2 separate regions of the Homo sapiens genome follow, and region 1 is linked to region 2. The links come from fine-mapping of genetic effects on gene expression. A gene starts in region 2. The other region holds a variant in brackets. All regions are shown on one strand. Distances are from middle to middle.

The links.
Region 1: its variant is fine-mapped to the expression of CALCRL-AS1 in esophagus mucosa (GTEx, PIP above 0.99). The same link has a PIP of 0.9 or more in sun-exposed skin.

What each region holds. Positions count from the first base shown.
Region 1 is chr2:187,545,839-187,548,757 of GRCh38, forward strand. The region is part of intron 1 of TFPI (tissue factor pathway inhibitor); the gene reads right to left. It overlaps CALCRL-AS1 (CALCRL and TFPI antisense RNA 1), which reads left to right. Exons shown (of 6, transcript NR_187179.1): 4 at 891-1,001; 5 at 1,240-1,325; 6 at 1,645-1,687. Among named protein-coding and RNA genes, the nearest start is that of TFPI, 7.1 kb to the right of the region's middle. RefSeq lists an enhancer at 991-2,190. The variant A/C (reference allele first, on the strand shown) is at 1,797.
Region 2 is chr2:187,001,668-187,004,586 of GRCh38, forward strand. It overlaps CALCRL-AS1 (CALCRL and TFPI antisense RNA 1), which reads left to right and starts at 1,606. Exons shown (of 6, transcript NR_187179.1): 1 at 1,606-1,698. It also overlaps the pseudogene IMPDH1P7.

The sequences.
Region 1 (2,919 bases), 540 kb after region 2:
TTTGGTGTTTATGTTTTTGATAGGTAAAAATAATTTTCTCCTACCAAATAACAGGAAATATTAATATTTATTGCCAATTAAGAGAGGAATGTGAGTCCTGGAAGTGGAGAAGTGAAACTGAGAGGCAATAAGGGGGAAGGGGGAGAAGAGATCATTAGAAAATTAAGAACAGGGCAAATGTAAACATGTAAACACATTTCTTAAAATTTGCAATTGAAATCTGAAGAGAATGTGATATACTATAGATCTCCACTACTAAGAATACAACGAACACATTGAAATAAAAAAGAAACACATAATAAAGGAAATAATGCCAATGTTTCTTTTTATAGTAATGAATAGTATTTTAATATGCCTGTTCTATGTATAGTTGTCCATAACTACTAAAACTCTCTAAAAATGAATGGAATTATTTTGTCTGGACTTTATAGTTAAATTTGTAAGTTTTTTTTTTTTTTTTTCAGAAAAAGATTACATTGTTTTCTTTGAATGAATTCACCTTTCTTCATCAAAACTACTGATTTCCATACTAACTAAATTTGTTTAAAAGCAAAGCTCTTTATGGTATGTTATCGTCATTTCCTTAAGAGGGGAAAAAAAACAAATAAAAGTTAGCATTACATATCTGAACCAAACGGAGGTTTTCAAGAATAAAATTCTGCACAACTACAAAACTAGTAGCTCCAAATGAAAGGAAATGGAATAAAAAACGAATGCAAGATAATACAATGAATTTTTGGCATGAGAGGAAAAAAAAAGAATAATATATTAAATGTGTATTTCTCTATTATAATTACCATACATATTAAAAATGAGAATGATATAGAGAGATTGAGAAACCTGTGGCTACTTTTGGCTATTTTACCTGCTTTTTGTATTTGCTCTTCTAGGTACCTGTTATTGAGTGAGATAAGCAAATGGTATTTCAGGACCAAAACATCTGTTTCCTGAAGAGTTGCTCCTTTAATTGTGTATCTACCTACCTGTCTATGTAACTCTTGGTAAATGAATTAATTTGTTAGTTAAAATCAATCTATTAATTCATAATGAATGGGATATCTTGTGGGAGGTACATGTGCTTTGCAAATACATGGAAAGACGAGACTTTCCTAACAGGTTCTGGAATTCAGGTTGATATTACCTTTTTAAAAATTTTTAAGGATTAATAGCTAAAAAGATCAAGTCAGTTTCTTCATTTCTCCTGAAGGCCTGTTTCCATCAGATTTTATCTCTGCCTAGGCAAATACATTGGAGACTTCTCAACTTTCTGCTTCTGATGATCTCAACTTGTGGTATGGCAAAAGGAGAGCAAAATGTTCACCCAGGTATGGGAATTTCTCACAAAAATGTTACTTTATTATATTTAGGGGAAAAAGGGGGCAAAATCTACACTCATAATACCTGAGACTGGATTTCTAGAACCTTTTGGTTTCAGATTTATGATGAATTAGAAAACTTCCTGATTAGAAAAATGTTATAGTTTCAAATATTAGCTAAAATTTTTATCTGTAAGTACAATAAACATGACAAATAATGATCAGTGTTTTCACTCCTATTAAGGAGAGTATTTTTAGTAATAAAAATAAGCCTTAATGTGAAAAAGCTAAGAATTCATGATTGCTTCTAATGACAAGTATCTGGGAGGGGTCTGAGTTTGGTTCAAGAGAGGAACTACAGCTGTTGGTGACTACAACCATCTGCCCAGATGACATCGTGATCAACTCCTCTGAATCACTCTAAAGGAACGAGAAGTCCTGGCAGCTGAGTCATGATCCCCCAGGAGCCATTAAGAAGTT[A/C]ATCTTCAGTCACTTCCATCCAAACAGAAGAAAACCCATGAAGGATGAGAACTATGGGTCCTGAGAATGACAGGTAATTGGTGCCACTTTATTCACAGAATCCAATAAATAGTACTCTTTGATTCACATATTTAATGCTCATTATTGTACATTTTTATAAAGACAAGTTAGTCTAAATTGCCATTCATCTCTTTCTTATCAAAGTCCTACCCAACACATGATCATATCATCAGAAATCAGATATTTTCTTGTTGAATGCCCTACCTAACTCATTCAATTGTAATTTTCTGGGAATGGTGACCAGAGATTTGATATTTTTGGAAGTTACATCAAATCCTCATTACTTTATAAGTGATTTAAAATTTATCACATGGTACACTTTTCATATCTTTCAAAGGATTAATATATAAAAAATATATAGTTAATGCTCAGCTTTAAAGACATTAAAGGACAGAGTTATACAGAAAGAAAGATCCAGAGATCTTTCTTTAATAAAGATATTAAAATTGAATCTGCTTATTCAAGTATAATGATAGAACAGAAAGAGATCTTAAAATTGTTTAATCTCTTCCTTGGCTTTCAAAAATATAAAGTCTTCTTTATTGGAGATTTCTTTATCCATAGAATATCTTAATTCCCCACTCCCCAACTTCCTCCCCATGTGAAGTTTTATCTGTCTTTAAAATATTTGTGTTGTCTTCTTCAGGATATATCATTGATTGGCACTTTTTGATTCTAGTTTTATATACTGTTATCCTTGTATATTAAAGTAGGTCTCAAATATATCTTTCATGGTGGTGTGTAAGGTTCTGAGAGAGCTGGAAAAAAGGTATAAGCTCCCTTCTAAAGTGCAAGTATATACTTGCAGAGATATTTTTTCACTTACATTCTTGGAGATCATCCATGGTCTCCCCATGTCTTTTACAAAAGAGGTTTCCAGCACCTATTAGGGAAGCTAGATGGTCACTTGTATCTTCCTTATCTCTGTATTAGATGATAATATCGAATGCAGGTAAGTGGTGGTGGGGAGAGTAATATTGACAGAATAGTTATATGGCAAACATTGGCACCTCAGAAATTTTTTGCTTTTTTGAGGGCTCTTATTAATATTTGCAAACTTTAA
Region 2 (2,919 bases):
ACTCTGGCCCAGGGAGCAGTTCTGATTCTGCAGGCGATGCCCAGCAAGAGGCTGCAGACCCCTCAGAACTTCCCCTCCTTTCTCCCTGGAAAGGAGCTGGGGAACCTATAGTGCAAGTCTGTGGACCACTCAGTTATGGAGGGAGGCTGTGCCTGAAAGTGGACACTGCGGTATGCCCCTTCCACCACCTTGGCCTCCACTGCTGTCCTCAGTACAGCCGCTTCTCCTAAGAGTGCAGGCCATGGACGCCACCCTTGATCTGGGCCGACATGGTTTGCTTCTCAAAATTCAGTTCTCCTGAGTACATCATGGACTGAAGGACAGACAGGCTGCGGCCCAATATCCTGGCAGCCAGGCTGGATGCCCGCTATGAGGTAGGACACGAACTTATGAATGGATCCTTTGTCCTGGATGGAGCCCAAGACACCCTGCGCGATCTTCACCTTATTCCCCTTGCTGACGTATCATTTCTGGCTGCTGCTGCTCTTCTCCATGGCATCCAGTGAGCCCATGCCCTGGTACTTCTTGAGCCGCACCCCATCTGAGAAGAAATACTCGCCGGGGTCCTACGTGGTGGTGGCCAGCAGGGAGCCCATCATCACTGTGGAGGCTCCAAGGGCCAGGGCCTTAACCACGTGCCCCACGGTCTAGATGCCGCCATCGGCTATGATGGACACACCAAAGCACAGGGCATACTCGGCCACCTTGTACAATGCAGTGCCCTGGGGCCCACCGCAGGCCATCACTTCCTGGGTGATGCAGATGGAGCCGCAGCCCATACCTATGCGCAGCCCGTCCACCGCAGCGTCAATCAGGTTTTTGGCCTGGGCGGCTGTCATCCCAATCACCTGGAGGTGGGGGTACTTCTGTTTGATGTAATGCACCGTGGCAATCTGATACACCGAGTTCCCTTGGGACAAGTCCAAGACTACGACGTCTACCCCCGCCTGGGTGAGCAAGTCCAGGCGGTATTTGTCATCCTCAGGGGTGCCCACAGCTGCCCCACGCAGTAGCTGCTTGTGGGAATCCTTGGAGGCCAGAGGGTAGTCTCTGTTCTTCTTCAGGTCGGTGCAGGTGATCATGGCCACCAGCTCATCGGATCATTGACGAAAGACAGCTTCCCTTTCTTGCTATGCTGCAGGATCTCATTTGCCTCTTTCAACATCAGGCCTGCTGGAGCCAACACTGAGGAGGGTGGTGTGGTCCTCCTCAGCAAGAAAGTTGATGTCTCTGGAGGTGACGATGCCCACCAGCTTGCTGCCTATGGTGCCCGTCTCAGTGATGGGGATGCCAGAGAAGCCATGCCGCATCTTGGCCTCCAACACATCACCCACAGTGTGCGAGGGGGTCAGCACCACCGGGTCCGTGATGAAGCCCTGTTCAAACTTCTTGACCTTCCGCACCTCCTTGGCCTGGAACTCTGGGGTGCAGTTGTGGTGAATGAAACCAATACCTCCCATCAGAGCCATTGCAATGGCTATGTCGGCCTGTCACAGTGTCCGTGGGGGAGGAAATGAGCGGAGTCTTCAGCGTGATCTTCCGGGTCAGGGCTGAGGTCAGGTCCGCCTCATCAGCTATGAAGTCTGTGAATCCTGGGAGAATCAGGAAGTCGTCGTAGGTGAGGCAGTCGGCGCTGGCAAAGAGCTGCTGCGCGGGGAGCCAGTTATCGGGCACATAGTCGGTGCCGCCCCTGATCAGGTAGTCCGTCATGCTGCCGCGAAACCCTGCGACATCCGCGCGCAGCCGCCTGCTGCTGCTGCCCCCGCGCTGCGGCCATGCTGCCGCTGCGAGCCGGGCGGGGCCGCTTCTCTCTCTCTCTCTCTTTTTTTTTTTCTTTTTAAATAATTTTCTCTCTCAGAGTCTGTCTCTCAGGGTCCTCTTTTCCCAGTCCCTCTGGCCAGGAGTCTTCTAAGTTTTCCACACAGTTGCACAGTTCTGTGTTATTGGATATACCCGGGGGATGAAGTAATGAAAGAAAAGACTGAAAATAAAAATGGGAATTCCTTCCACAGTCTTTACACACAGAGGCCCCTAGAGGCCCATTTTCCTGGTTCCTCTGTCCAGAAAGATGGATTTCTAGGGCTTACATTCATGCTGCTGCCTCTACATGCACTGAAGCTGGTCAATGAAGCTGGCCTTGGGGCAGAGGGAGAGAAAAACACATTGGGATTTCACCTTCAACCTCCACTTTCCACCTCTCAGGGTCCCAGTTTCTTAGTACTCTGACAGAAAACCAGGGTTTTCTCAAAGTTTTTGCTGTCTGTTCCCATCACATTGTTCCCTGATTTGGCCCATCCTTAAGCCAAGACCAGATGATCTTGAAGGAAAATATCCTAGGAAACTCACTATTGGCATACTGGTCATTTTTTGAGTTTTGATGTCGCTCCTCAACCTCCTTGCTATTATTTTGTTTCGGAATCATCCTCAGGTAAGTGTTTTAGTATTTTGTCCTGAATTTTTAATTGTAATGAGTGAAAGAGAAAGATTCTAGCAGGCTTACTTCATCTTGGCTGGCACCTGAAGTCCATCCATAGGATATATTTTTAAATTGTTCATGTACTTGGCCACAAAGAAAGTCTCTAAGAGTTGGTAACACACAAAACATGTTCTCTGAAAACATTGCAATAAAATTAGTAAAGAATGCCAAAATGTGCTTTTCCGAATATTTTATAGCTTAAAGCAGAAATCAGATTGCAATTTATAAACTATTTAGATCTGAAAAACAAGAGAAGCACAACTGATAGACTACAACAAAAAGTATACTCACAGGAAAAATGTTAACCTTAAATGTCTGTACTAGGACAAAACAATTGGAAAATTATTAGCTAAATATTTAACTGAGCAATGATTAAGTGAAGAAGTTAGAAAAATAGTAAATCTTAAGAAGGTAGAAAGAAGTAATAATAACAGAAATAAAGG